Linked DNA regions of Homo sapiens. The protein of the gene in region 1 purifies or fractionates together with the protein of each later gene. This does not show direct contact. Each region holds a gene or a part of one and is shown in the gene's direction. Other genes may lie near its edges.

What was found.
Region 2: the proteins of CASQ2 (region 1) and PPP1R9A purify together in Homo sapiens (affinity purification with mass spectrometry; 3 studies listed by BioGRID and IntAct, with this or other methods). This does not show direct contact.
Region 3: the proteins of CASQ2 (region 1) and EPB41L4B purify together in Homo sapiens (affinity purification with mass spectrometry; 3 studies listed by BioGRID and IntAct, with this or other methods). This does not show direct contact.
Region 4: the proteins of CASQ2 (region 1) and MARK3 purify together in Homo sapiens (affinity purification with mass spectrometry; 3 studies listed by BioGRID and IntAct, with this or other methods). This does not show direct contact.

What each region holds. Positions count from the first base shown.
Region 1 is NC_000001.11:115,723,273-115,731,028, reverse strand, and holds part of CASQ2 (calsequestrin-2 precursor), read left to right. Parts: intron 1-3,906; coding exon 3,907-4,037; intron 4,038-5,475; coding exon 5,476-5,521; intron 5,522-7,756. UniProt on the Homo sapiens protein: Calsequestrin is a high-capacity, moderate affinity, calcium-binding protein and thus acts as an internal calcium store in muscle. Calcium ions are bound by clusters of acidic residues at the protein surface, especially at the interface between subunits.
Region 2 is NC_000007.14:94,910,393-94,918,148, forward strand, and holds part of PPP1R9A (neurabin-1), read left to right. Parts: coding exon 1-1,116; intron 1,117-7,756. UniProt on the Homo sapiens protein: Binds to actin filaments (F-actin) and shows cross-linking activity. Binds along the sides of the F-actin. May be involved in neurite formation. Inhibits protein phosphatase 1-alpha activity.
Region 3 is NC_000009.12:109,212,691-109,220,446, reverse strand, and holds part of EPB41L4B (band 4.1-like protein 4B), read left to right. Parts: intron 1-3,301; coding exon 3,302-3,525; intron 3,526-6,628; coding exon 6,629-6,747; intron 6,748-7,756. UniProt on the Homo sapiens protein: Up-regulates the activity of the Rho guanine nucleotide exchange factor ARHGEF18. Involved in the regulation of the circumferential actomyosin belt in epithelial cells.
Region 4 is NC_000014.9:103,464,776-103,472,531, forward strand, and holds part of MARK3 (MAP/microtubule affinity-regulating kinase 3), read left to right. Parts: intron 1-781; coding exon 782-1,018; intron 1,019-1,196; coding exon 1,197-1,316; intron 1,317-1,567; coding exon 1,568-1,667; intron 1,668-2,303; coding exon 2,304-2,416; intron 2,417-3,257; coding exon 3,258-3,411; intron 3,412-7,756. UniProt on the Homo sapiens protein: Serine/threonine-protein kinase. Involved in the specific phosphorylation of microtubule-associated proteins for MAP2 and MAP4. Phosphorylates the microtubule-associated protein MAPT/TAU. Phosphorylates CDC25C on 'Ser-216'.

The sequences.
Region 1 (7,756 bases):
ATCAGTTGGGGTGGAGGGGGTGTCCAAGGGGAGATGGTGGAGTCCAGAAGGCATGACTGCACCTGGTAGAGCCTCAGTGGTTTCCAGCAGGGAGTGCTAGGACAGAAGAGGAGAAAAGTAATAAATGTGAAGTGGCTGAAAGGACCTGTTTGTACAACACATCCTAGGGAATCTCAGAGGGACCTGGAGGTGCTTTGTTGAGGTCTGAAACCAGGAGAGGCAAGGGACAAGAAAGCACTAATGCGGTCACAAAAATGCAAAAAACAACTGGCACTAGTAAAAGTGGATATAACAAGAAGATCTGGCCATTGATGAGATGATGAGAGAAGGCCTCAAAATAACTTAAGATAGCAAGTCTTGGCGTTAAGACAGCAAAAATTATGAAGCTACTGAAAACATTAGGAAATCCAGGAAGAAGAATCTATTGAGGAACAAGAGATGGGGTTATGAGTTCTATTTTCTAAAAGTTGGGGAAACATTCAACTGGAAATGTCCTTAATTAATTAATTAATTAATTCAGTCATTCACTCAACAAGTATTTATTGAGTGCCCTTTATGTGCCAGGCACTCTTCTTAGTGCCAGGGACACAACATTGAGCAAAGCAGATTCCTGCCCTTTAGAATTTAAAGTTTATTGTGGGAAAGAGAAGATGGAAAGACAGAAAGTTCAAAAGTAAACAAACCAATAAATACATCATATGAGTTGCAAGACTGTAAAGAGGGTGAGATGTCATGGCTGCTGATGTAAATTTGTCAGTCAGTAGTTCCCAACCACTATCCATATTAGTATCCTCCAACAAGCTTTTAAAACCATTGGTCTCTGGGCCCCAGCCCTGGAAATTTTAATTTTTTAGGGTTGTGGCAGTGTCTGGGAATCTGCATTTTCAAAAGCCACCCAAGGAATTTTAAAGGGTGTGGAGGTTTAGGACCAGTACTGATCTATTAATACTAATCCTAAATCAAGCCACACGAAGGCCCAACCTCTCTGAAGAAGCAGTTAGAACAAGAAAGTGTCAGAGGGCCAAGGATGGTTCCACTCTGCTGCACCTCACAGCCTGAAAAATATCAGTTCTTAAAATCCCATGTCCCCGCCCACTGACCTGTTCCTCTCTCTGTCTGAGTGAACAATGAGACGAAAAATCACTTTCTTTTTTAAATCACACTGGAGCCAAAGGGTGCTGTGACTAAACAAAGTTAGTGGAGAAGATAGATGTTGGGAAGACCTAAATTTAGTAATGGCAAAAACCATTACTTTTGGCAAAAACTGCGATTACTTTTGCACCAACCTAATACTTGAGTTGGTTTCATTGGCAACAACTAAAATGACTTGCTAACTGGAGGAAAAATGATTTGTATCAAAATTCATATACATGCACATGTCAGAAAATTGGCATTGTACTTTGTAGTTTTCTTATCTTTGTTGAAATCTATTCCAACTAGTTAACAGATAAAAGCATGAAAGAATTCATTTTTATGGACCCATTTGGTTCTTAATAATATAATTCATTCTTATATAATGCTAATACCCATGAACCAGATCTCCTCCTGGAATAATGCCTTGGGTTCAGTAGGCCCCACTAAATACTTACTGAATAAATGAATGAATAAAAGCTTCAACCAATCAAATCCCTTCAGTCCTTACCATCCAAGATAGGAATAATAAGAATGAAAGAGGGGGTCGGGCGCAGTGGCTCACGCCTGTAATCCCAGCACTTTGGGAGGCCGAGGGGGGAGGTGGATCACCTGAGGTCAGTAGTTCAAGACCAGCCTGGCCAACATGGCGAAACCCCATCTCTACTAAAAATACAAAAATTAGCTGGGTGTGGTGGCCTGTGCCCATAATCCCAGCTACTCGGGAGGCTGAGGCAGGAGAATCGCTCGAACCTGGGAAGCGGAGATTGCAGTGAGCCGAGACTGTGCCATTGAACCCCAGCCTGGGCAACAAGAGCAAAACTCTGTCTCACCAAAAAAAAAAAAAAAAAAAAAAAAAAAAGAATGAAAGAGAGGGATTCTCTGAGATACAAGATGAGAGCACTCCATGATGGTGGTAGGTAGACAGTGAAGAGATCCCTGGGAAATTTTTACTTAGCATTTCCAAGACTTAAATTAAGGACACGACAATCCAATTTTTACATTCTTAGACAGCACTGTGGACCCAGACATTGGCATTCAGAGACGAGACTATCACCACCACCAGGCGGGTTTGACTTCTGGCTCTGCTCCCTCCAGATATATGATCCTGACAAATTTCTTACCCAAATTGTGCCTCAGGTTCATCATTTGTAAAATAACTATGATAATCATTCTTACCACATACAATCAAAGTGAGAATTAAACAAAGAATCAACCTAAAACACCTGGCAGCAGTGCCTGGCACGTGATAAGCACTCCATATGTTTGTTATTATTACTGTTTTCATTCTGATCACTTCTCCTTTCATGGAAACAGTCTTCTGGTTCCTAGAATACATAGTAAGTGAACTCAGAAAACCAGAATTCAATGTCATTTTCTTGCCCACTCTGGCTCCCTGCCTCATCACCTCATCATCTACATCACCCCCCTACCCCTGAGAAGAGGGAAAAACAGTTAGAAAAAACTCCACATCTCCCTCTCTTAAAATTAACCTGACAATAAAATCTCCCTTGACTGACTATAGCTGTCAACATGGCCTGTTTTCTTGATCTCTGAGTAGGATGCTGGAATTTCTCTCCCTTAAGTACTATATGAAATGCCTTTCAGAATATAGTGACCTGGAATTCATAGCAATTGATGACAAAAACCATATGGATATCAATGTTTCCTCAGAATGGATCTCCTTGTGTAAGAGCTTATGCAATACCCAGCTCCTCCCCTTCCCCAGTTAGTTGCAGCCGCCCTGGGTCACGGCACCACGGGTTACCACCACAGTGCATCAGCTCTTAGGCAATTCCTCTTCAGCTTAAAGGGAACCACTGTTCATCCCTGCGCTTTCTTGAACCACAGCTCTGAACTAGAAAAGAGTGGCATTTGGTTTTCTATAGAGCGTTGCACATTCCAGGCCTCTGAAATCATTTCACAAACAGAGGTCCTGAGTTCAGCAGCTGTGCAGGCAAACAGCAACCATTCTGCCTTGACAACACACTGAACATGTGGCTGCTTTAATCCAGAGAGAAAATGTCTTCCTGGCTATCGGCTGGCTCTCCGAGCTCTTTATCTGTTGTAAGATGAGCAAATCATCCTGGCTTACTGGGGTCTGTCCAAGTTTCAGTACTGAAAGTCCTGCATCCCAGGGAGCCCTTCCACCCAGAACAAAGCAAGATGGTCAGTCACCTCATAACTGCTGACAAACTGGGCAGCTCCCAAAGCCTGACAAACCATGAAGCAAGTTGGGTACTGAGAGATTTAACTGTAGGGCCAGCACTTCAACCTAAAAAGCAATTAGGGCTATGAGCAGATCAAAGACAGGCTAATGGGTTGGGTTCTGATTCTGAGTACCTATATGCCTTAAGGATCTCCATCAATTGCCTGTTTTATCAACATTGGTTCCATTAAATCCATACAACACAGGATAGTAAATATGCTCCATTGGCATTTGCTTCCCATCCAGCCCTGGCAAATGCAGTAGAGTGATGGTGATTGTAGAATTAAATTTCCCACTTCGCATCTCAACTGCTCCCTGCCCCTGCCCGACCCTCATTTGCTAGATAAGTCTTTTTCCTTCCTATCTTTCCTTCTTTGATCACAAAAGAAGATTAGTCTAGCCAGGCCTTGGGTGATAAGTTCCTGTCACTTCAACATTGAAGTTAAAACTGTACATCTGTTTTTATGTCTTTGCCGGAAAACATACACACTTATCTTAGATGGACAACACACTGCTATTCTAGACTAGTATTCAAATAAACTTTGTCTTATTTCTAATGGTTACAGGTTGCAAAGAAATTATCTTTGAAGATGAATGAGGTTGACTTCTATGAGCCATTTATGGATGAGCCCATTGCCATCCCCAACAAACCTTACACAGAAGAGGAGCTGGTGGAGTTTGTGAAGGAACACCAAAGGTGCCTGAGATGGCATGTGGGGGCTGGGGGCCTGGGGTCTGGGGAATGGAGAGGAGCCTCTCTGTGCTAACATTTCAGACCTGCCAAGAGCAACAACCTAGTTAGTACCCCAGCAGTACAGAACTCAGTAGTATGGCTTTGTTGATCAGTAATGACTAGCAGGGATGTTATTACTTCTGAATCTAAGTCTGCACCTGCAAGCAGAGTTTGATAAATCCCTCAGTCAGCAAATCCCCTCAAAGCCAGGGCAAGATATAAATAAAATTCTATACTAGGAATGAGAGCAATTTAGTGAAAGTTCCCATATACCAATAACCATGCCCAGTGCTTTAGGGAAACTATTTTATCTAATCTCCAACCTTAGGGAGTAATTATTATTATCCCAATTTTACAGATCAAGGAATTGGACTCAATAGTTAAGTAACTTAGCCAAGGATGAACACTCTATGCATAGAACTTCTGGGAGAGAAATGCTTGATACCACTTAGTGTAGCTCCAGCATGGATCAGCAAACTTTTTCTGTAAAGAACAAAATGGTAAATATTTCAGGTTCTGTGGGCCAGATGGCGTCTGTAGCAACTACTTAACTGCGGCTGTGGCATGAAAGCAGCCATGGATCATGTATAAACAAATGGGTGTGGCTGTGTACCAGTAAAAGTTTATTTAGGAAAACAGGAGGCCCTGGCTGGATTTGTCCCACCAGCTGTAGTTTTTTGACCCCTGCTCTTGAGGGAGGGAAGATATGGGAATATGGAACATGGTAGTGGACTCACTGGCTTGTCCCTCCACCCTACCTGGCATGTACACGAGTGTGTTCATTGGACCTGCAGTACTGTGATCCCCCTCACCTGGACAGTCCTAGTTCCTTCAGGAAGGCAGTACTTGGAGGAGCAAATATTAATATGTCCAGCACTATTTGCCAATATTCAGAAAGAAATGAAACTATGAGCAAAATATAGATCCTGTCTGCTCCCCTAAATATCCCTAAAGGACTTTCAATGTATACACCAGATGATAAAACAAAGGCAGTTTTAACCTACAAAATCCGAGATTTCCTGTTTTCCCCCTCAGGTTTCTCATTCCAGGCCTGCTGTGGGCTCTCTGGAGTGGTGGCTATCTGTGAGGAAGGAAATGGCATCTTGCCCTGGGAATGAGCTGACCCTGTGCCCTCTGACCCATTGTTTGTAAAAGACTTTATAATTCTTGGATCAGTGGGTCTATGAAAAGGCTGAGTGCCTTGGCCCAGCTCGCTGTCTGACACAGCAGAGTAGAGCAGGTCTGTTTCCTTAGAAGATAAGTGGGTTTTTAGGGCTCTCCCTGCCTTGCAAAGGAAGCATCATCTCATTTTACATTTCATAATGCTGTGGCTGCTGTGTCTGCCACAGTGATCCCTACTCAAGGAAGCTCTTTCTTTTTTTTTTTTTTTTTTTTTTTCCAGACCCACTCTACGTCGCCTGCGCCCAGAAGAAATGTTTGAAACATGGGTAAGAAAGAGGCAAACTCTCTTTGCCTTGTAGAGATGAGTATAGTCCCAAAGAGGAGTGCTTCTTAGATTAAGTCCCCAAACTCAAACCAAGTTTATTTGGCTGAGGTGGATGTCTAGATGAGTATTTGAAACATGGACAGATTGGGTACGACGGCTCAGAACTGTAATCCCAGCACTCTGGGAGGCCGGGGCCAGGGATCACTTGAGTTCAGGTGTCTGAGAGCAGCCTGGGCAACATAGCAAAACCCTGTCTCTACAAAAAAATGCAAAAAGTAACCGAGCATGGTCGCATGTGCCTGGAGTTCCAGCTACTTGGGAGGCTGAGGCAGGAGGATTACTTGAGCCTGGGAGGTCAAGTCTGCAATGAGCTGTGATCCTGGCACTGCGCTCCAGCCTGGGCAACAGAGTGAGACACTGTTTCAAAAAAATGAAACAAAACAAAACAAAAACATGGACAACTTCATGCTCAATTAAAACACAGTTCTCCATGGATCAATCCAAGCCTCTTTGGTACTACTCACTAGGCAAAATTGCTCTTAGTTAATTTCCTGCAGTGACTATAGCTTCTGTTCATTGATCATCAGAGCCACACAGTAACACAGTGGAAGGAACTCAGGCTATAAAGTAATAGAGACTAGGGTTCAAGTCCAGAATCTGCCACCTAGTAGCTTTGTGTACTATGTCAAGTCCTGTGGCCTTTCTGAGCTGTCTAAATTTCCTCATCTAAAATTGGGACTTTTTATAAGGATGAATATGAAGAGTTCACTATATGGTAGCTGTTTTTTAAAAATATCAACTGAAGGCACTGGCAAGCAGCTGAGCCAACTTGTCTTCTAGGTTTGTGTCATGGATAATATGTCAGGCAGCTCAAACAGTGTTAGATAGAGGGCCTTGGAGATAAACCCCCAACCCACACCTTATGTACAGAAGTTCATAAATAACAAAGGCTGTGGAGCATTTTTCAAAGCATTTCATGCATCTTTTTATTTGGATCTTCCAATAGCTCTAGAAAGTGATGTAGAACAAGTATTATTAATTAGTCGGGCATAGTGGGGCACGCCTGTAGTCCCAGCTCCTTGGGAAGTTGAGGTGGGAGGATTGTTTGAGCACAGCAGCTTGAGACTTCAGTGAGACATGATAATGCCACTGCACTCCAGCCTGGGCAACACAGCAAGACTCTGTCTCCCCAAACAAACAAACAAAAACCAAATACTATTTTAGCCCCGTTTGACATAGTCAGAAACTGACGCTCATACAGATTAATCACTAAAAGACACATAACTAAAAACCATTAGTTCTTGGAACTTAAATATAAGCCATCTGGAGCCAAACCTGGTGTTCTCTGCAGAATGCCTCCCCAGAGTGACTATGTCCCCACAAGGGGCCATTTGGTGTGAGGGCTGGGAAGGAGGAGAAAGGAATTAACACGGAAGTATTTATCTGTTTAATTCTTTGAAGTGATGGATGAACAGAACCAGGGAGCAACTTGACACTGTTTTACTGGTCTGTAACTTACTTGGATGTTTGAAGGTAGAGCAAACATTTCACAAGATACCAAAGGGTAAATAATCCAGTCCAGAGGAGCGGACTATTTAATAACAACTCAGCACAATAGAAACAAACTTTCCTAACATTTAAACCTTTCAAAGATATTAAAAGGGTCTTATCGCTAGGCATAGTGACTCATGCCTGTAATCTCAGCACTTTGGGAGGCCAAGGTGGGCAGATCACTTGACGTCAGGAGTTCGAGACCAGCCTGGCCAACATGGTGAAACCCCATTCCTACCAAAAAATACAAAAATTAGCCGAGTATGGTGGCAGGCGCCTGTAGTCCCACCTACTCTGGAGGCTGATATAAGAGAATCACTTTCATCTGGGAGGCAGAAGTTGCAGTTAGCTGTGATTGCACCACTGCACTCCAGCCTGGGCAACAGAGTGAGACCCTGTCTCAAAAAAAAAAGAGTCTTATTAATGTATTTTAAAATAGTAATAGCAAAAAGATATAATAGTGCTTTAAAATAGTATTTTTTAAATTGTTTTTGCTTTTTACCCTAAAATAATTTCAGATGTACCAAAATAGTGCAAAGAACTTCAATATCTCTTCACCTAGATCTCCCAAATGTTAACATTTTACCATCCCTTCTAGCTACATAGATACATAGATAGATGATAGATAGATAGATAGATAGATAGATAGATAAATAGATAGATATAGAGAGATATAGATAGATGA
Region 2 (7,756 bases), on another chromosome or scaffold:
TCATCTCCTCAGAGAAGAATGAAGCCCAAAGAATTTCTGGAAAAAACAGATGGCTCAGTTGTTAAGTTGGAGTCTTCTGTTTCTGAACGAATTAGTAGATTTGACACTATGTACGATGGCCCTTCATATTCCAAGTTCACTGAGACTCGAAAGATGTTTGAGAGAAGTGTGCATGAATCAGGACAGAACAACCGCTATTCCCCAAAGAAAGAGAAAGCTGGAGGGAGTGAACCTCAGGATGAATGGGGAGGTTCCAAGTCCAACAGAGGCAGTACTGATTCCTTGGACAGCCTTAGCTCCCGAACTGAGGCTGTCTCCCCAACTGTGAGTCAACTGAGTGCAGTATTTGAGAACACTGATTCTCCCAGTGCCATCATTTCTGAGAAGGCTGAAAACAATGAATACTCAGTGACTGGGCATTATCCCTTGAATTTACCATCTGTTACTGTTACAAATCTTGACACATTTGGTCACCTGAAGGATTCTAATTCCTGGCCTCCTTCAAACAAGCGAGGTGTTGATACAGAGGATGCTCACAAGAGTAATGCAACTCCAGTACCAGAAGTGGCTTCTAAAAGTACCTCTCTAGCTTCGATACCTGGTGAAGAGATCCAGCAGAGCAAGGAACCCGAGGACTCCACATCTAATCAACAGACTCCCGACAGCATTGACAAAGATGGTCCTGAAGAACCTTGTGCTGAAAGTAAGGCAATGCCAAAGTCCGAAATCCCTTCACCACAAAGCCAACTGTTAGAAGATGCTGAAGCTAATTTGGTTGGAAGGGAGGCAGCAAAGCAACAGAGGAAAGAACTTGCAGGTGGTGATTTCACCTCTCCTGATGCTTCTGCATCCAGTTGTGGAAAAGAAGTACCTGAAGATTCAAATAATTTTGATGGTTCCCATGTGTACATGCACAGTGACTATAATGTGTATAGGGTGAGATCCAGGTATAATTCAGACTGGGGAGAGACAGGCACTGAGCAGGATGAGGAGGAAGATAGTGATGAGAACAGTTACTATCAGCCTGATATGGAGTACTCGGAAATTGTTGGATTGCCAGAAGAAGAAGAAATCCCAGCAAATAGGAAAATTAAGTTTAGTAGTGCTCCTATTAAGGTAAGTGTGTTTTCTCCATTTTGTTTTCTAAATTTGTTTTTAGTACTAGGGCCTAATTGTATGTAGAATAGACTTGACAACTAGTAGGAGTTTTTGTAAGGGATTCAAGATTGTTGATACCTTTAAAATCACCTGTTGTCAGGTGATTTTAAAAGTTCAGAGTTTGAGAGATATCAATTACATTTCTTAAATGTGCTTTATAATGGCATACATCAATAGTGAGTAATATTAAAGCTGAAGAAGTTCGGGAATTGTGAGATACGTTCCAATGAACTGGAGTATGAGTATTGTGAGTACTGAAAACCAGGAGTGTTAGTTTGAAATGTAATTACTTTAGTTTTACCTAAAATTATTCATAAATAATATTTTCTGAATGTACACACTTTAAGGTATGAAGTATAATGTACAATGGGAGAGTTTTGGTAATCTGGGAATAATATTCGATTTACTTTCTTAAAAAAATCTGAGTTATTAAGTGTAAGTGGATTGTGAGGAATTTTGTTGGAACTTTTTTTGGGGGGTACTGCTAGTTGGTGGTGAAAATTTAATTTATGGAAATATATTAGCTGACTTAAATACTTTGAAAAGCTTTGACTGTAAACAGTCTGAGTTCAAAATTTGTTACATAGCTTTAAAATGAATTTTTTGAAAGAAATAACATTGATTTGCCATTCATGGATTTATTTTTACCTCTTAAAAACTGGATAAATGCCAATGGAATTCACATGCTCTAATGACTTCACTTAGTTAACATTTGGTATGGAAGAATAGCACAAAGTACATCAGCAGTGGGTGGTAGAATGTTATTAGTGGATAATGGCAATAGGGGCAGGAGGTGGTTGGTTGAGTACCAGAATCTCCTGGGGTGCTTTTTCAAAGTGTACTTGCCCACAGCTCAGTCCTGAGATGCTGGCATGCTCTCCTTGGGGAATCTGGAAGGTTATGGTGGCAGAATGTGTAGTTTTAGACCACATTCTAGGGGCTTCTAGCTTACACAGTGTGTATATATGATAGACTTGGAATTTGATATATTCCTGTAAATTTTCTCCTCAAAATCTAAAATCACTGTCTGTTATTTTCATTTTGGGACCTTCCATATAAGGCTCTAAAATATAAATTTACATAGAAATATTTAAAGAGAAATCTGACATTGTTCTGATTATGAAATACTATTCTGAAATAAAGTAATAATCTATGAAATTATTTACAGATGTTAGCAGGCAGACTTTCATTTTATTAGTGTAAGGCAGAAGTTCTGGGTCAGAATGGGTCATGTTAAGTTAAACTGTAGTTTAAAATAAACTACAGATGTCAATTCAGTTTGAAAGTAAGTTTCTTTGCAGTGCTTTACCACCTTCCTTTGTGATTATCTCCTCCTGCCTTCCTATTCCTCCCCAACCCCCACTGCCCTACTCTAGATGGTCTTTAAAGGTGCCTTTCCCCCAAGCCTATCCAGTGAGCTCCTAAACTTTGCCATTCGCATCCCCCTTGAACATCATCTTTCTACCCTTTAGGAAGAAAGCAATAAGATTAAATCGTTTCACATTGAGAAAGGCAGGAATAACTGAAATGAACTCTTCAAGGAGTTGTTAAACCCAGTGACTAACTTTTTAATACAAGGGATAGCAGCTTATGAAAATTTATCAAGTAGACCACTACCCAGTCAACCAAGTGGGACACCAGCCTGTATTTGGGTCCTGTGCTGCACAAAACATAACTGTGCACTAGTTGGTTTAATGGATTTTAAAGGATTTATCATTGAAATGTGTCTGTTTATATGTGAACAAACCAGCTTTTTGGGAATGATATTTTGAAGTTCAACTAATTTGTGCTATGATTGCTTATAACAATAAGTATTTTGCCTCTTAATTTTCATATAATGACAATTTTATCTAGCAAATAATGAAACATTACCTACATTTAATGCATTTCATCAAGAATAAGATTTCTAAAACAAATTAGATCAAGCATAAGACTTGTGAAACAAAGATAATGTATTGCATTTGATTGGGCAGTTAACAGGACTTCTTGGAGTGGATTAAGTTTGCAAACAGAAGATTCATTCTTAGCCCTTTGTAATGAATAACACAATTACTCTTTCTTGCTGCTTCCATTGTTAAATATGCAAGTGGATTCACTTGGAAAATTTGAGAGCTGCTTTCTACTGGTCATGGTGGTGGCCATAGTGTTTAGGTTATTCTCCAATTAAGATTTTTTTTGCTGCAGAGGGTGGTAATACCTTATTAGATCCAATTAAAGTATTTATTGAAGGCTTATCATGTGTGTTCTCTCATGCTGTTAGCTGAAGAAGACACAAAAATCTGTAAGGTTACCCCTTTCCTCTGTGAGTTTGTAGAGTCAATTCTTAAACACATTGTATTTAAAATCCATAAAAAACAGTATAAAAAACTATGCCAAAATTTTTAATGTCCTGTGAGTCCTTTAGTGGCACTTGGTTGTACTAAATGCATATAGTGAAAGGGATTTGATAGATTATTTGGAAAGGAATACATGCAACCATTTTCTATCTGTGTTTCTTTATTCTTTTCATAAAACTTTATTTATGGAATGGGAAGTTGCAATTCCTAACCTCAGTCTTTTCCTTTGAAGCTTAAACATACTTCCTCTTAAAGAAGCAACAGGGAATGTATTCTTTAAATAAATGATTTTTAGAACTTTTACATTCTTTTCCTGGCTGTCACTTTATTCTGTACTAGGTTAAAAATTCCTAGCACCTTTAGTTTTTTGTTATAGATCTTATTTATCATCTTTGTATGTGTAATATTGTCCTCAGTGACTACTTCAGTTCTTTTTATAGATGTTTTACATAGATATTTCCATAAGATGTCTTAAATCTGGACTTAGAAAAACATCAGAATAATAGTTGATCTTTCCTGTGTAGCATATACCTTGTACTTGTACATATACCTTGATTTTTAAAAATGGTCAGACTGTATTGCCAGCCATCAGTTAGTATGACTTTCCTATCTTTCACAGACAGTTATTTCTTATTAGATAGATTGTTATGTTTCATAGGGTCATGAAATATTAGAATGGGATTAATAATAGCAAATTAAAATCCAACTTTGAGATATGGCATGGGAGAATGTTATGGACCATGCTAATTCGAGATGGAATTATGCCTTCATTTTCAGGAATTTTTCAAAATGAAAGGATTGAATTAAAGTAAATTTGTCTTAGATGAATCAAAACAAGAGAGGGTGACATGTCATTTTTTTCTACTAATTCAGAACATTTATGGAGCCCCTAATATGTGTCAGGGACAATGCAAATATAACAAATACAACAAATACATAAAATGAGGAGCTGATGAAGTAAGGAGCTGCTGGTCGGTGGGACGTGTACAGCCCATTAAGGAAGCTCTCAGGCTGTTCCCAACTCTGTGCTTTGATGATCTTTCTAAGGTTGCTGCAGCCTCATTAAGGAAGTCACAACCTTTCTCTGTTTCTTATGTCCTTTGGATTGGTATTTTTTTTTCCCCTCAAATACTATTGTGTTACAATGGATTGTTATTCTTGAAACAGCATATCTGAAAAAGATTTTTCTAACTCACAGTAAGAAGGATATTGCAGAGTTAATATTGAGGTACATTGTGCTATATTTTGTGTTTTCTCAAATCATATGGAGCTTTACAGGATTAGAATTCAAATAATCAGCAAGGGCACCAGAGCTTCTTCAAACCTTACATGATAGTTGTTGAAAATGGATCTTCTTGTATTCTCTCCCTTTTTGGGGGCTCCGAGTCATAGTTAGGGCATTCATGGATATATGAAGTTTTTTTGTTCAGGATGGTTTTCAGGGAATAGTTCTGTTGAGATCCAACTTTTTGTCTTTGCGGAGGCTTCCTTTATAACAGTTTTGTCAGTGCTTCTTAAACTTTAATATGCATATGAATCACTTGGGAGATCTTGTTAGCATCAAGATTCTGATTCAGTAGGTATTCTATGGGAAATTACCTTGATACAATGGTTGAGCTACAAGTACACCAGCAGGCAAGCTATCTCAGAGGTTATGGAATAGAAGACTCAGAAAACAAATTAAAATGCTTGAATCACATGATTTACCAAACCAGTTAAACACAAATCCAGAAGCAAGAGGAAAGCTATGGAGTAAGTTAACACACTTCAGGTTCAAACCAGGTTGGAAGGACCACGCTACCTGTCCTGGATAAACAATGTTCCTATGTCCCATCTTTCTTTCACATAACCCTTCCCCATTAATGATGTGGTTATGAGGACCAGAGCTGATGTTTGAGCCAAGACTCCATAGACTAATGATTTCCTGGGTCGATGATACACACTTGTTCTGTTGAAGAGATGTGACAAATACACTTAGGTACAGCCGTAGCTTTGCTAGTTTGCCTGCTGATGAGCCATGGGACCATCCTTGGTGTCTTCAGTAGATGACTGATATGGAAGTAATGTAGCTATCAGTCCAGGCATAATGGTGACTTGGTATTTCCACTGCTTTTTGTCTATAAGTAAATCTCATTCATTTTATCATAATTTCTATTTATTTTATTGTTGTCATGTCTTACTCCCAGCTTACCTATTTATTACGCATCTGCTGACTGCCTTCATTTCACCAGCTTGCATTCTCATTATCAATACTTGGCCCAGCCTGAGTGTTGCCTCTGTCTCATAAGTTGTTAGTTTATTTACCATCTATGATTATCACTTCTTAAGTGTTTCATCCATCCCATTAGTTTTGTTTACCTCTATAATAGAATTTCATATTCTGAAATAATACAGGAAAACCACGTTAACAGTATGTCTGGAGGGGAACCTTAGATTTTACATTTCTAACAAGCTCTCAAGTGGTGCCGATGCCGCTGATCAAGAGATCACTCTTTGGAATATGAATTTGAAGTACAATCTTCTGGCTTCTGAAAGTGGCTGGCCATAGCATGTTAGGGAAGCAACATGTAATAAATTTCCTTTCCAGATGGGCTGCTATATCTGGTTGGGTGGAATAATATTCTCTGAAGATGAAATAAGGTATAATCTTGTAAAGTGCATGAATACTCTGTTTCTGGATCCCAAAGTGGATTATTATCCTTAACTCAAGGCATTTGGGTCATTAAAAAGTCACATCCTAGGCTCTTTGTGTGGTTTAAGTTTTTAGTTATAAAAAGTTGGGAGGAAGAAGTTTTTAATGGAATCAGAAATTTCATTTCTTTCATTCTTTTGCAAGTGTAAATTAATAAACTTAGTATAAGAATGGTCATATGATTTAACTTGCTTTTCTTGGATAACTTTGATGGTACAACTTTTTTTTTGTTTGTTTTTTGTTTTTTGTTTTTTGAGAGGGAGCTTTGCTCTGTCACCCAGGTTGGAGTGCAGTGGCACGATCTCAGCTCACTGAAACCTCCACCTCCTGGGTTCAAGAGATTCTCAGGCCTCAGCCCTCTGAGTAGCTGGGACAACAGGCATGCACAACTATTCCAGACTAATTTTTATATTTTTAGTAGAGACAGGGTTTTTACCATGTTGGCCAGGCTAGTCTCGAACTCCTGACCTCAAGTGATCTGACCGCGTTGGCCTCCCAAAGTGCTGAGATTATAGGCGTGAACCACTGTGCCCAGCCGATGGTATAACATTTAAATTGGATTTCCTTTTAAATTTTTATGTTTTATGACCTATGCTTCATAACCAGGTAAATGAAATATGTCAAATATTTTAATATACTTTGTAAAATCAAATAATGAAGATTTGTTGAATGAACCCCTTTTCTAAAATCCAGAGGTATAGCTATACTTTTAAACTGAACAGTGATCATTTAGTGTTTAAAAAGGGATTCTTTTGACAGCAGATTATTTCAGATGTTTACTGGTATTTATTTGTAATAGAAATATTTAAAGTTTCTTGTTTTTTGTTAATTTAATTAATTTTTTTTGAGACAAGGTCTTGCTCTGTCACCCTGGCTGTAGTGCAGTGATGCAGTCATGGCTCACTGCAGCCCTGACCTCTGGGGCACAAGTAATTCTCCTGCCTCAGCCTCCCATGCAGCTAGGACTACAGGCAAGCGCCACCATGCCTGTTATTATTTTTTTTTTTTTTGTAGAGATGAAGTCTCACTATGTTGTCTAGGCTTGTCTTGAACTCCTGGGTTCAAGCGACCCTCCTGCCTTGGCCTCCCGAAGTGCTGAGATTAAAGGCATGAGCCACTGTGCCCAGCAGTTGCTTGCTTTTTGGATCATACATACTTTGTGTTCCCTCTAAACTTTCTCACAAATGACACTAATTGTTGGGTTCATGTACTTGAAAGATAAGATGCCAAATTTGGAGGAAAATCACTTTGTGTTATGTTATCCATGTGTCGTTTACCTTGTTAACCCAGTTAATATGCCCATTACAAGTAATTTGATTGAAATCTCATCTGCATTAGATTTTTTTCTAACACTTTCTCTACCACTTGAAAACAAGTTTAGGAATTTTCATAGAGAAATATAGTTAGATGTGGGATAAATTCTGTATAAACAAAACAAACATTACTATAGATTGTTGCTTTTTATGCTGTTATCTAATTTACCTGATATTTTTCTTGATTTTCTATGCTCTCATTTGGACCTATTTTCTTTTTGTTCTTTTGCTTCATTATATTCTATAGCTATGGTTTT
Region 3 (7,756 bases), on another chromosome or scaffold:
CCCAACCAGTCTCCTCCACACAGCGCTCAAAACAAACTCTCCAAAATCTAACTCCCTTGCTTAAGCCCTTTCCTTGATAACCAGGCACTCTAAGCCCTTCATAACTAGCCCCAGCCTGTCTTAGTCTCCCTTCCTGCTACTTTCCTCCTCACTTCTCCAGACATCCTGCTCTTTCAACCACCGTTCCTTTGCTCATGCTATTCCTTAGGCCTGGAACAGCTGTTTCTACCTTTTCCACTGAAAAGAAATTCTACACACACAAATGACAAAATAACACACCTCCTCTGATTTCAAGCATGTGGGTTATTAATTGGAAAAACCCAAGTACTTCAAGCAATAAATAAATAAAGGCATTTACTGGAGCTTATAATGGAAAAGTTCAGTGGTAATGCCAGCTTCAGGTGTGGCTGGAACCAGGAGCTAAAATGATACCATTAAGTTTCTTCTCTCTCTGACTACCTCTAACCTCTGCTCATCTTGTCTTTCTTTGTGCATTGGCCTCAGTCTCACAGGGACTACTTCTCTGTGTCCAAAAAAGATGTTCACAAAGAGCCCTAACTTCCATCATCCTTACAGCCGGAGCCAGCTTACCCATTACACACAGTAGGCACACAATACTTAGACTCACAATACTTTCAGGGGCCCACGAAAAGGTTTTAAATATTTTTTAAAATAAGAAAAAAATGGATTTTCCGTTGAAGAAAATGTTTTAGTATATGTTATTAACATATTTACTTTTATGCAGTTGTGAAATTTAATTTTTAGTTAATTTTTATAGAAAATGGACAAAGGTGGCCAGGCACGGTGGCTCACGCCTGTAATCCCAGCACTTTGGGAGGCGGGTGGATCACAAGGTCAGGAGATCGAGACCGTCCTGGCTAACACGGTGAAACCCCATCTCTATTAAAAATACAAACCAATAGCCAGGAGTGGTGGCAGGTGCATGTAGTCCCAGCTACTCAGGAGGCTGAAGCAGGAGAATGGCGTGAACCCGGGAGGCGGAGTTTGCAGTGAGCTGAGATCGCGCCACTGCACTCTAGCCTGGGCGACAGAGCGAGACTCCATCTCAAAAAAAGGAAAGAAAATGGACAAAGGCAAAAGTGCTTGTGGCACAAAAAGGCACAATAAGGCCCTGCTTGCCTGTTACAAAGAAAGAGAGAGCCTTCCTTTCAGTTTTCATGTGTTAAATCTTAGGAAAAACTCTGATTGTCCCTAATTGGATGACATTCCAGAACACTCTCATTAGAAGGATGCAGGACTCTGATTGGCCAGGCTCAAGTCTCAGGCCCACCCCTGAGGAGGAAATGTCAATCCCATACAAACACAAGGAATGGGGTTTCCTATAAGAAAGAAGATTCTGTTTCAAGAACTGTCCAGCAAAACCTAACTGTCTTCCCCCGAATGCTCTTTCCCTTACAAACACCTTCCCCCAGGAGAACTGATTGCTTCCACTTCTGCATTTTCTTAGCAGTTTGTTCTAGTATGATTGTAAGTGACTGAATCACAGAGCTTCCTACTCTGGAGTGTGAGTTCCTTGAAGACAGAGTGAAAGAGTGGGCAGTAGAGATCTGAACCATGGGAATGAGCAGAAAAAGGGGTTAGCCCTGCCAGGGAATAAGAGGAAGGGATCTTTATCTGGGTCTTAAAGGCTGGAAGTCTTCCTGGAAGAAGGGGTATTTTCACTGGGTTGACAGATGAGGAAGGACTTCAGGAGGCACCAAGAAGTAAGAGGCATCGGGATGGGAAGGAGTTAGGGTGGGAAGTAGAAGGATGTAGCAGGAGATGAGGCTGAAAAGAGAAAGGGCCAAGACTGGGGGCGGGGGGAGGTGCTGTCAGTGCCACATAAAGGATTGTGGCTTTTATCCTTCAAGCCAGGGCTCTTCACCTGGGTCCATGGAGAGGCTCTAGAGGGCCTGATATTGTGTGTAGAATGTTGTTTGTTGGTACAGGGAAGGTTCGTGGTATTCACCAGATTTTCAAAGGGGTTTCTGTCTTAAAGTGGTTAAGAATTATTAGTGTTAGGCTGGGTGCGGTGGTTCATGCCTGTAATCCCAGCACTTTCGGAGGCTGAGGCAGGCAGGTCACTTGAGGTCAGGGGTTTGAAACCAGCTTGGCCAACATGGTGAAACCCCATCTCTACTAAAAATACAAAAACTAGCCAGGCATGGTGGTGTGCACCTGTAATCCCAGCTACTCAGGAGGCTGAGGCATGAGAATTGCTTGAGCCTGGGAGGTGGAGGTTGCAGTGAGCTGAGATAGTGCCACTGTATTCCAACCTGGGCAACAGAGTGAGACACTGCCAAAAAAAAAAAAAAAAAAAGAATTATTAGTATTAGAGATATATTCAAGCTCCTTGAAGAAGGAGAGCATGGTCTGGAATGTAATTAGAATAGCACTCTGGCAATTACTCTGTGGAGGATGGACTAAAGGAACGAGCAGAGACGGGGAGAGCCAGCAGGAATCTGTTACAAGAGTCTAGGTGGGAGATGACACGGCCTTCAAATGGGGCAATCCTAGTTGTTTTTTGTTTTTTTTTTAAAAGGAGGTGGTCCACTGGAATTAAAAGATGTTGTAAGCTGGGCACAGTGGCTTACACCTGTAATCCCAGCATTTTGGGAAGCCCAGGAGGGTGGACCACTTGAGCCCAGGAGTTTGAGACCAGCCCAGGCAACATAGCGAGATCCTGTCTCTACAAAAAATTTTAAAAATTAGCCAGGCATGGTGTCATATCCCTGTGGCCCCAGTTGCCTGGGAGGCTGAGGTGGGAGAATCACTTGAGCCTGGGAGCTTGAGGCCACAGTGAGCTGTGTTTGCACCACTGCACTCCAGCCTGGGCAACACAGCAAGACCCTGTCTCAAGAAAAAGATGTTGCAGCACTGATGTTAACTGGAGCTTTCTGCATGTTGTGGGTGACAGAGAGGAAGAGAAACTGACCCCAAGACTTCTAGTTTGCATTATGATCTTGTCATAGGATTATTTACAAATGATTTTTTATTATTGTTTTTACCTCTTCCTCTCATTTAGAGAATGCCTTTAAAAAAAAGAAATAAATATTATTTCATTTAATTTCAAATACTTCTTTAAGTTACAAGACTTAAAGTCTCTGATATATACAAACTTCCACTTTGCTCTTTTTCTTAAGTATAATATTACCATTGTATATACTTTATAATAACTACAGATCTAGTTTTTGAGTTTATTTCTTTCAGTGTTTAATGCCTAGAAAACGTCTTTGAAAGTACACAGAGGGCTTGCAAGGCATTCTGCTTTTCTAAATCCTGACTGTGTCACCCTCCACAGCTACCCGCTCCCTTCCCCAGTGCTTAGCAGCTCGGACCGGTTGCCTTTTGGCATTGAGGAGAATGGGGGCACACCGTTCCTCACCGCAGCTTCAGGAAGGCATCACCACCAGCACCAGCATCAGCATCAGCACCAGCACCACTCAAACTACAGCCTCTCACTGACCCTGGAGAACAAAGAGGGGCCTCTGAGGTCCCCAAACTCCAGCAGCAAGTCCCTTACAAGTGAGTAGGGGTGGAGGGGGCAAGGCAGGAGAAGGGGGAGCAATGCTGCAGGGCACGAGAGTTCCCTAGATTCTTAAGACAGACCCTTGCGGTGCAGCACACAATGGTTGTCATGTTATGCTGGGCTACCGGGTTTGGGCCAGAGTAGACAAGAGCCTTATGCATTTGAGCAGAAGCACTTTAGGGATTATGGTTTACCAGTAAACTCTAATTTCATTATAGGGTCACAGTTCTCCACCTCCTTTCTTTTTTTCTTTTCTTTTTTTTTTTTTTTGAGATGGAGTCTGGAGTCTGGCTCTGTCACCCAGGCTGGAGTGCAGTGGCATGATCTCGGCTCATTGCACCCTCCCCCTCCCAGGTCCGAGCAATTCTCCTGCCTCAGCCTCCCGAGTAGCTGAGATTATAGGCATGTGCCACCACACCCAACTAATTTTTGTATTTTTAGTAGAGACAGATTTTGACTATGTTGGCCAGGCTGGTCTCAAACTCCTGACTTCAGGTGATCCACACATCTCGGCCTCCCAAAGTGCTAGGATTACAGGCGTGAGCCACCATGCCCGGTCAAGAAGTGAAGGCTTTTGAAAAGTGATTAAGTCATGAGAGTTCCACTCTTATGAATAGATTAGTGCCTTACAAAAGAGCTGGACGAAAAAAATCCCAAAGTGCTGGGATTACAGGCGTGAGCCACAGTGCCCCGCCTCCACCTCCTTTCTTAACAGTTCTCTGCCTCTGTGGTACCCAGCACTGGCTTGAGCAATGGAAAAGAGAAAGAGGGGAGGGGAGTGATGGCTGGACTTTCTACTTTCTTCATCATAGAAAAACTCATTCTATCCCATTTTTGACATTCCACTTGGGAGAGCAAAGTGGTGTCAGGTAGATCCAATCTGTCTACTGTTATGGGTCCCAGAAAGAGAAGTTACAAAAATAGAGAGTGAGCAATTAGAAATTTTATTATTTTATTTTATGACAGGGTCTTGCCATGTTGCCCAGGATGGTCTTGAACTCTTGGGCTTAAGCAACACTCCTGCTTCAGCCTCCCAAAGTTCTGGGATTATAGGCATGAGCCACCATACCCAGCCCAGAAATATTGTTAGCAATATGATAGAATGAGTTTATATCTTTTAAATCTAATAAAAATATGGGCTTTGATTCGGCATGTCCGTTATTTTATTTTTCTAGAAACTCACTTTTATTATACGTTACCAAAGAATTCATCTTTGGTATGAAAAGAACCTGTTGTTTATCAAATGTGGTTTGAAAAGTACTGAGGGCTGGACGCAGTGGTACGTGCCTATAATCTCAGCTACTCAGGAGGTTGAGGCAGGAGAATCGCTTGAAACTTGGAGGCAGAGGTTGTAATTATGCTTGTAATCCCAGCACTTTGGGAGGCCGAGATGGGTGGATCGCCTAGGTCAAGAGTTCGAGACCAACCTGGCCAACGTGGTGAAACCCTGTCTCTACTGAAAATACAAAAATTAGCTGGGCCTGGTGGCGTGCACCTATAATCCTGGCTACTTGGGAGGCCGAGGCACGAGAATCACTTGAACCTGGGAGGTGGAGGTTGCAGTGAGCCGAGATGGTGCCACCGCACTCCAGCCTGGGCGACAGAGTGAGACTCTGTCTCAAAAAAGAAAAGAAAAGAAAAGAAAAGTACTGAAGTGGAGGCTTCGATTCTAGCTCTTACCCTTGAACTGAGTTCCCTCTTTGATCTTCTATTTTCTCATCCATGAAATAGGGTAGAGGGTATTGAGATGATGACCAAGGAATCTTCCAGCTCTGATATTGTGTGAGTCTGTGAGCTGTTGAGACAGGATGGGCCATCCAACCTTCACCTTGGGGCCACAGGGAACAACTCTGTGTCAGCTGAGCTGGAAATGGAAACTCGACACCCACTTGGTATTGAAGAATCCGAACTCTGTCCCTCATCACTATCCACACTGCCCATGCCCTAGTCCCTGCCTCATCTTTGTATATCTAAATAACCATAACAGCCTCCTAAGGGGCACCCGCTCCAGGACAATCTCCAAATAGTAGCTGCCAAAGTCATAGTTCTCACCACATAACTCTGACCACATGCCATAAGACCTTTCATTAGCTCTTCACTGTCTGGGATAAAGTCCTCGCTTCTGAGCAGGGCCATACACAGACCTTGCGTATCCTGACCCCTGCCAAGGTCTTCATTCTTCCCTCCACTCCTCACCATACTCTAGCTACACAGAACTACTCTCTTCTTACAAAATACTCTACTGGGTCTCAACTCTGTCCTTTGCACCTGCTGTTCCCTTTGCCTGGAATACTTTTCCCCACCTTGTTGAACTCCTACACATCCCTTAGCAGCCCATTCAAATGTTCGCTTGTCAGTGAAATGTTCTCTAACACCCATCCTCAGTTCCGTCCTGCTCCTTTAGCAATTAAATAAACCTTTTCTCAGTCTTCTTCGGAATATCTCCACATGTGTCCGTCATCCCCATTAGATTAAAATTTTGTCTCATTCACCTCTTTCTTTCAGCTCCCAGATCCCAGTTGCTAACGATACTTGGCACAAGTTTTAATATGTAATGAATATTTAATATTTAATGAATATTTAATGTATTAATGAGTAAATTCAAGCTGGAAGGAGAAGTAGTGGCAAATGAATCCAAAGTAGCACAGAAATAAAAATCAATGGATTTGATTTTAGGAACATAACATGGCTTTTAAGGGCACGTTATATGCCTGTTTGCCTGAACACTAATCTTTCCAATTTGCATAATGCTTTTCCATTTTTAAAGCATTTATACATAAATGACTTCATTGGATATTCACAGCAACCCTGCAAGGTAAGTAATTTTATTTTCATTTTTAAATGGCTCAGAGGGTCAGAGAGGCAAAACAACGTACCCAGGGGCGTCCAGCTCATGTGTGGGACAGTTAAGCCTTGAAACCTTGACCTCAGATATTCTCACACCCTATCAGCTGATGCATACTGAAGGCATGAGAGCTGCTGGAGGAGGAGGCCGGCAGAAAGGGTGCTGGGAATCGGGCGCTGGCAAGTGTCCCTTTTCCCCTGTATCTATCTGTCCTTTCAACCTTTCCTTATTTATTTCTCCTGGCTGCTTTGTAGAACTGAGTCCAGGAACACCTGCCTTGTTCAGTGAAGCCGCTGCCCATCTAAAGAAGCTGGAACTGGAAACTGTGAAGGCTGCTGGACCCTGGCCTCCTCTGCACATCAACATAAACAAGGTGCCAAGGGCCGGGGCTCTGCCATGACCATGGACTTGGTGCTGACATCAAACCTCTGATTACTACCCTAGCCTGCCTGCTAAACCAAGTGCCTTTGCCTTGGAGGGATCTCTATTCCATCTTTCCTGACATTTCTGTTCAGGCTGTCTTTTAGGAGCAAATATTTACTTACCTTCCTTTTGGGTGAATTATAGCATTAGGCGTCGTTCCCAGTGTTTTGCCTGACAGGCTAGATCTGTTTGTTAGTTGTCTCTCCCTCCTACTAGACCGAAAGCTCCAGAGGGAGCATCCACATTTACCGCTTTGCATTTCTAGCCCTCTATCTCCCTCTGACAATGCCTGGCACATTGTAGATGTTCAGTAACCATTTGCAGATGGAAGGAAGGGAGGGATTAAGATACAGAAGGAGAAGGAGACAGGGCAGAAGCCAGGCCCCCTTTTGACTAGACCTATTCTTACATCCAAAGAGGCAGCCTTATAAAAGTCAAATTTTATCTTAGAACGATACATACCACTGCTGGATTCAGTCTGCCATTTAGTTCAACCTTCTCAATGTCTCAGACCAGAGGAAGGGAAATGACTTTCTCAAGGTTGCACAGCCCTTGACAACCTTCTCAATGTCTCAGACCAGAAGAAGAGAAATGACTTTCTCAAGGTCACACGGCCCTTCACAAGGTTGCAAAGCCCTTGACTCTCGATCCAGTGTCCTTGGCACTCCAACATGCTTCCTCGTTTTCTTTGCCAGCGTTTCTCAACTTTGGCACTAGCAACATTTTGGCCTGATGACTCTTTTTTGCAGTGGCTGTCCTGTGCATTGTAAAATGTTTTGCAGCCACAATGCACTAAATGCCACTAGGGACCCCCATCCAGTTGTGACAACCAAAAATGTCTCCAGACATTGCCAAATGTTCTCAGAAGGGCAAAATCTCCCTAGTTGAGAACCACTGTTGTACATACATTTTAATTTTTTAAATCCCCTAAGGAAGAATCTTTTTCATTCATGGTTCCT
Region 4 (7,756 bases), on another chromosome or scaffold:
AGCCTCAAACTCCCAGGCTTAAGAGGTCCTCCTACCTCAGCCTTCCAAGTAGCTGGGATTGCAGATGTGTGCCACCATACCCAGCTAATTTTTAAAAATCTTTTGTAGAGAAAGGGTCTCACTATGTTGCCCAAGCTGGTCTTGAACTCCTGGGCTCAAGTGAGCCACTGTACCTGGCCCTGCCCCATATTATTCTTGTTTTTTGGTTTTGAGATGGAGTATTGCTCTGTCGCCCAGGCTGGAGTGCAGTGGCACGATCTTGGCTCACTGCAACCTCTGCCTCCCGAGTTCAAGCAATTCTCCTGCCTCAGCCTCCTGAGTAGCTGGGATTACAGGTGTGTACCACCACACCCAGCTGATTTTTGTATTTTTAGTAAAGACAGGGTATCACCATGTTGGCCAGGCTGGTCTTGAACTCCTGGCCTCAGATGATTCGTCCACCTCGGCCTCCCAAAGTGCTGGGATCATAGGTGTGAGCCACCGTGCCCAGCCCCCATATTATTATTATCAATTGAAAAACTCAAGGCTTTTCTTGATCTTGGGACATTGATGTTTAAATTAGTGCTAGAATTAATCTGTACTTCATGTTTGTTATTGTTAATATTATAAAATAAGGAGTTCTGACTTGTCTCCTGTTTTTTTCTCTAGAAAGAATGTTTTCACATTAATTAGGAGGTAACTTCATATCATTACAGAAAGCTTTTCTAAAATGCCTAATCCTGTCATAATTCTAATTCTATTTTGGCTAAATTTCATTTTTGTCTTGATGTTTTCCCTCTAGGCTGAAAATCTATTGTTAGATGCCGATATGAACATTAAAATAGCAGATTTCGGTTTTAGCAATGAATTTACTGTTGGCGGTAAACTCGACACGTTTTGTGGCAGTCCTCCATACGCAGCACCTGAGCTCTTCCAGGGCAAGAAATATGACGGGCCAGAAGTGGATGTGTGGAGTCTGGGGGTCATTTTATACACACTAGTCAGTGGCTCACTTCCCTTTGATGGGCAAAACCTAAAGGTATAAGAAGCTGCACCCATGTACTTCACTAAACTAAAAGAAGTTTCCTAATATTACATGGCTTAATATTTTTAACATTATATCAGTGCGGGGGGTTTCAGGGGGTTTTTTGTTGTGTTTTGTTAACTAAACCTAAAGGTTGACTTACTCGTTTTCTTTCCTCTGTACCTCTCCAAAGGAACTGAGAGAGAGAGTATTAAGAGGGAAATACAGAATTCCCTTCTACATGTCTACAGACTGTGAAAACCTTCTCAAACGTTTCCTGGTGCTAAATCCAATTAAACGCGGCACTCTAGAGGTAATCATGTAGGTGGAAACAAGCAGTAACTTTGGAGAGTCTTTAGAGTGACCTTAGATCTTTGCTTGATTTGTATGCCATACTGGATATATCCTGCGGCTTTTTAAGCAAGAATTGAAACATTAAAAAATATTTTTTGAGTTTATGCTTTGAACGATAGTCAATGAAATGTTGAAAATAAATTTTTGTAAATATTACGGTTATCAGAATATTTCATTTTACTCTGCTAATGAACAGTTTACCTTTTTTAGCAAATCATGAAGGACAGGTGGATCAATGCAGGGCATGAAGAAGATGAACTCAAACCATTTGTTGAACCAGAGCTAGACATCTCAGACCAAAAAAGAATAGGTAATCACTCCATGCCTGCATGTTCATGTGTTTTTGTCTAAGTAACATATTTCTGTTTTGACTCATGTCTGTGCCTAAAATGTGAATAATGGAAAGTTAAGCACAAGTCATATGAACAGTTTATCTGTTCTGTCATATTTAGGAACGTAACTACCTGCAGTTTCCTATAATGGCACCCAGTAACTCTGAAACAAGTGCCCATTTATGTTACAAAATATATGTAATATGTCATCTTTTAGGTCAAATGAAAATTATTTTACCCTACAAAAGAATGATTTCTGGCCGGGCGTGGTGGCTCACGCCTGTAATCCCAGCACTTTGGGAGGCCAAGGCGGGCAGATCACCTGAGGTCGGGAGGTCGAGGCCAGCCTGACCAACATGGAGAAACCCCATCTCTACTAAAACTACAAAATTAGCCAGGCACGGTGGCTCATGCCTGTAATCCCAGCTACTCGGGAGGCTGAGGCAGGAGAATTGCTTGAATCTGGGAGGTGGAGGTTGCGGTGAGCCAAGATCGCGCCATTGCACTCCAGCCTGGGCAACAAGAGTGAAACTCCGTCTCAAAAAAAAAAAAAAAAAAAAGGATGATTTCTTACCCAAACAAAACACATAAACTGTATTATGCCCTTCTTTTAGATATTATGGTGGGAATGGGATATTCACAAGAAGAAATTCAAGAATCTCTTAGTAAGATGAAATACGATGAAATCACAGCTACATATTTGTTATTGGGGAGAAAATCTTCAGAGGTAAGAGTAATCAGAAAGAGCTGAAATACCCTGTATGTAATTATTAGTTTATATAAACTGTTTTCTTAGTTTTTATCTTTTGAATATTTGTAACATTTGATACATCATTTTTTAGATTTACTTGCAAATAGCAAATCTAAATCCTATGACTATTATAAGCTATTTTAACTTAACCCTTAATGATGGATATTGGCCAGGCGTGGTGGCTCATGCCTGTAATCCCAGCACTTTGGGAGGCCAAGGCGGACAGATCACTTGAGACCAGGAGTTCGAGACCAGACTGGCCAACATAGGGAAACTCTGTCTCTGCTAAAACAAACAAACAAACAAAAAATTAGCTGGGCGTGTTGGCGCTTGCCTGTAATCCCTGCTCCTTGGGAGGCTGAGGCAAGAGAACTGCTTGACCCTGAGAGGCAGAGGTTGCGGTGAGCCAGGATCACGCCACTGCACTCCAGCCTGGGTGACAGAGCGAGACTCTGTCTCAAAAAAAAAAAAAAAAAAAAAAAGATGGATGTTGTCATAAACCTGGTCTTTCATAAATTAACCTGTAGTCATTAATAGCTTAGAAATGACGTAAAGCATCAGATGAAGTAAATACAACATTTAAAGTTATTTGAGAAAGCCTGGAAAGAAAATCATAAATACCTTACCTTTAGTGTCTTTCCAGCCGTCAGAAAACTACTTTTGCTTGAGTTTAGGGTTGTCATTTTTGTACGTTGTGATTCCTCCTCTCTCTGAATGAACGGTTTATGAGAGGTCTGTGTTAATGAAAAGTTTAACTTCCTAATAAGCCATTTGGGTTCGTGTTGTGGTTTGCTCTGTTTTTCTCATTTTCTCTTAGCTGGATGCTAGTGATTCCAGTTCTAGCAGCAATCTTTCACTTGCTAAGGTTAGGCCGAGCAGTGATCTCAACAACAGTACTGGCCAGTCTCCTCACCACAAAGTGCAGAGAAGTGTTTCTTCAAGCCAAAAGCAAAGACGCTACAGTGACCATGGTAAGTTTTGGAGTATCCCAGTGCCTTCTCTTAGAGTCCAGGCAAGAGGTCTCCTAGCACTGGGAAGCATTCTCTTGCTCAGAGCCTGGCTTGATGTCCTTTCTTGGCATTGCTTTCTTTCTTTCTTCTTTTTTTTTTTTTTTTTTTTTTTTTTTTGAGACAGAGTCTCACTCTGTTGCCCAGGCTGGAGTGGAGTGGCACAATTTTGGCTCACTGCAACCTCCACCTCCCAGGTTCAAGCGATTCTCCTGCCTCAGCCTCCTGAATAGCTGGGACTACAGGTGTGTACCACCATGCCTGGCTAAGTTTTGTATTTTTAGTAGAGACGGGGTTTCACCACATTTGGCCAGGCTGGTCTTCAGCTCCTGGCCTTAAGTGATCCACCTGCCTTGGCCTCCCAGAGCGCTGGAATTACAGGCATGAGCCACCGTGCCTGGCCAGCATTTTTTCTTAGTGTTCCTGCAGGTGCTGCCATGATTACATATTACTTCAAGGCTCTTATCTTCTTTATACATGCAGTAGATTTTTGCTGGATAAAGCTTAGTTGAGTGGAAACCTTACCATTTGCCCTTCTAGAACCTCTGCTTTAATCTGTAGTTTTCCTTTTTTTTTTTTTTTTTAAATGGAGATGGGGGTCTCGCTATGTTGCCCAAGCTGGTCTCAAACTCCCAAGTTCAAACTATTCTCTCACCACAGCGTTCTAAAGTGCTAGGATTACAGACGTGAGCCACCATGCCCAGCGCTAGAACTGGGCGCTGTACCGAACTGAATAGAACTGCTAGTCTGTAGTTCTATTCACTCTCTTCACCTCTGCATTGGATTTACTTTGTAGAGTAGCACTGTCCAGTAGAACTTTCTGAGATGATTACAGTTTTGTGTATCTGTGCTGTCCAGTCAAGAAGCTACTGGCCACTTGTGGCTATCAAGTACTTGAACTGAGGAAATGATTTTTACCTTTTTTATTTCTATTTATTTTTTATTATTTTTATTTATTTATTTATTTATTTATTTTTCAGATGGAATCTGGCTCTGTCGCCCAGGCTGGAATGCAGTGGCATGATCTTGGCTCACTGCAACCTCCACCTCCCAGGTCCCAGCAGTTCTCCTGCCTCAGCCTCCTGAGTAGCTGGGATTACAGGCATGCACAACCACACCCGGCTAATTTTTGTATTTTTAATAGAGACAGGGTTTCACCATATTGGCTAGGCTGGTCTTGAACTTGGGAGCTCAAGCAATCCACTCACCTTGGCCTCCAAAAGTGATGGGATTACAGGTGTGAGCCACCGCGCCTGGCCTTATTTATTTGTTTATTTTTTGAGATGGAATTTTGCTCTTGTTACCCAGGCTGGAGTGCAATGGCATGATCTCCGCTCACTGCAACCTCAGCCTCCGAAGTAGCTGGGACTATAGGCACACACCACCACACCTGGCCAATATTGTATTTTTAGTAGAGACGGGATTTCACCATGTTGGCCAGGCTGGTCTAGAACTCCTGACCTCAGGTGATCCACCCACCTTGGCCTCCCAAAGTGCTGGATTACACGTGTGAGTCTGTAATTGGCCTGGCTGATTTTTACCCTTTTAAAATTTTCCTGGCCGGACATGGTGGCTCATGCCTGTAATTCCAGCACCTTGGGAGGCCGAGGCGTGTGGATCACTAGGTCAGGAGTTCGAGACTAGCCTGACCAACGTGGTGAAACCCCATCTCTACTAAAAATAAAAAAATTACCTGGGCATGGTGGTGTGTGCCTGTAATTCCAGCTACTCAGGAGGCTGAGGTAGGAGAATCGCTTGAACCTGGGAGGCAGAGGTTGCAGTGAGCCAAGATCGTGTGACTGCACTCCAGCCTAGTGACAGAGTGAGAGTCCATCTCAAAAAAAAAAAAAAAAATTTGTACTTAAGTGTAATATATAGCCAGTTGTGGCCAGTAACTCTCATAATAGACAGGACAGCCCTGGAGAATATATGGAACCTCAGTTTTGCCTTAATTGGTTTAAATGTTGTACTGTGTCATTCTCATCCATACTCTTGCTGTTAGTGTGGTTAAGCCACTCTCCCTTTTAAACTTCACCTAGAAGCCAGTCCTTTATGAGACATAAGACTCCCAGTGGGTAGGCTTACCAGGCTCTACAGTTGCTCTGCCTTCAAGGCAGCCTGTGTGTCAGAGTCCTGAGGCTAGCGTGTGTGTTTACTTGCCCATAACTATAAATGTTAACATTGCAGATATTTCCTTTAATTCTACTATTCCAGGATTCAGGAACTAAATCTATTTTTTTTTTTTTTTTTGAGATGGAGTTTCACTCTTGTCACCCAGGCTGGAGTGCAATAGCGCGATCTCGGCTCACTGCAACCTCCGCCTCCTGGGTTCTAGCAATTCTCCTGCCTCAGCCTCCCGAGTAGCTGGGACTACAGGCATGCATCACCATGCCCAGCTAATTTTTTTATTTTTAGTAGAGACGGGGTTTCACCACATTTGGCCAGGCTGGTCCCGAACTCCTGAACTCAGGTGATCCATCCACCTCAGCCTCCCAAAGTGCTCGGATTACAGGCATGAGTCACTGCGCTCGGCCTCATTTTATTTCTCTTCTCTGGACATTTTCCATCTTAATACTTTCATCTTGAGATTTGACACTTAGGACTGCACAGGGCATTTTAGGTGTGGACAGCTTTGATTTTGTACTAAAAATGATTACACTTGGCTTGATTTCCATTTCTCTTCCTTCTGTTGCTTGCCTTTCTACATGGTTTAGACTGAAGCAACAGTGTACTAATATCACTAGTAAACCATCTACAGTGCCTGCTATTCTAGGGTGTAACTGAGAGCTCAGAACTCATTCTCACATCAGGATTTGTGCTCCTAGCATTTGTAGGTGACGTGTTGATCTAGGTCTGCCTTTTTTGTGTTCATGTTAGTCACTAACAAGGGGGGTTTCTAGTGCTTATGGACCACATGGCAATTAAATGCCCATATATTGCCCTGAAACCATCTGGTTTAACTTGTCCCTCAATCCTAGAAGAAACCTGACAATGGGATTTTCACATTTCTCTAAGGAATATGTTAGTAAGTTATTCCTTAAGCACATAGATTCCATCCAGATTATTAGTGCCTTTTTCCCCCCAGCTCAATTTTAGAGATAAAAAGAGCTTTAGACATGGTATTGTACACTCACCAAACCTCTGTTTTATCCCTAAATAGACCAAGAGAGATTACCAAGTCTCCCAAGGTTACATAGTAAATGAGAAACACCTGGGGCAGAGCTCAGGCCTGCTGGTCCAAGCCCTGTGTTTTTTCTCCACTGAAGCACCTCATTGGAGTAGCTTTTTCATAATCCTCATCTTTCTTGGAATTTCTGAAGGCAGGCAAGCCTGTATAGCCGGGCTAACTTTCACCTCATCCTCCTGCCTCGTCTCACCTCTCCCTTCCCTTTTCCTTGCCTGTGGATGCTGACCTCTGCATGGGTGCCTGCTTCTCTAAAGCTACGATGTAATCTGTAGCTGTCCTTCCTCGTTTGAGACCCACATGTGAACACCCCATATGTGTGCACTTTTTCTGCGAATGGTGATCATCTGATTTTCAAGGGGTTAGCTTGTTTTTTAAAAAATGAAAAAAAAAATCACTGTTTACTAATCAATGAGTGGTATTGGGGCAATTTGGTAGTTCTCAGAAAAAAAATTAATTTGGATCAATTTCTCACATCTTATACAAGGATGAATTCTAATTGGAGTTAAGATACAAATATAGGGCTGGGCGCAGTGGCTCATGCCTGTAATCCCAGCACTTTGGGAGTCCGAGGCAGGTGGATCACGAGGTCAGGAGATCGAGACCATCCTGGCTAACATGGTGAAACCCTGTCTCTACTAAAAAATAGAAAAAATTAGCCAGGCGTGGTGGTGGGCACCTATAGTCCCAGCTACTCAGGAGGCTGAGGCAGGAGAATGGATGAACCCGGGAGGCGGAGCTTGCAGTGAGCCGAGATCGAGCCACTGCACTCCAGCCTGGGCGACAGAGCGAGACTCCGTCTCAAAAAAAAAAAAAAAAAAGATGTAAATAAAACTCCAGAAATATTGAAAGAAACCTTGGGATTATTTGCTTTGTAACTTGGACTGGTGAAGGTGTTTCTGTCACCCCAAACACCAAACCCATGAAATAAAAGACTTACAAATTTGATTACATAAAAATGAAATTTCTGGCCGGTCGCATAATCCCAGCACTTTGGGAGGCCGAGGTGGGCGGATCACGAGGTCAGGAGATCGAGAACATCCTGGCTAACACGGTGAAACCCTGTGTCTACTAAAAATACAAAAACAAAATCAGCTGAGCTTGGTGTCAAGTGCCTGTAGTCCT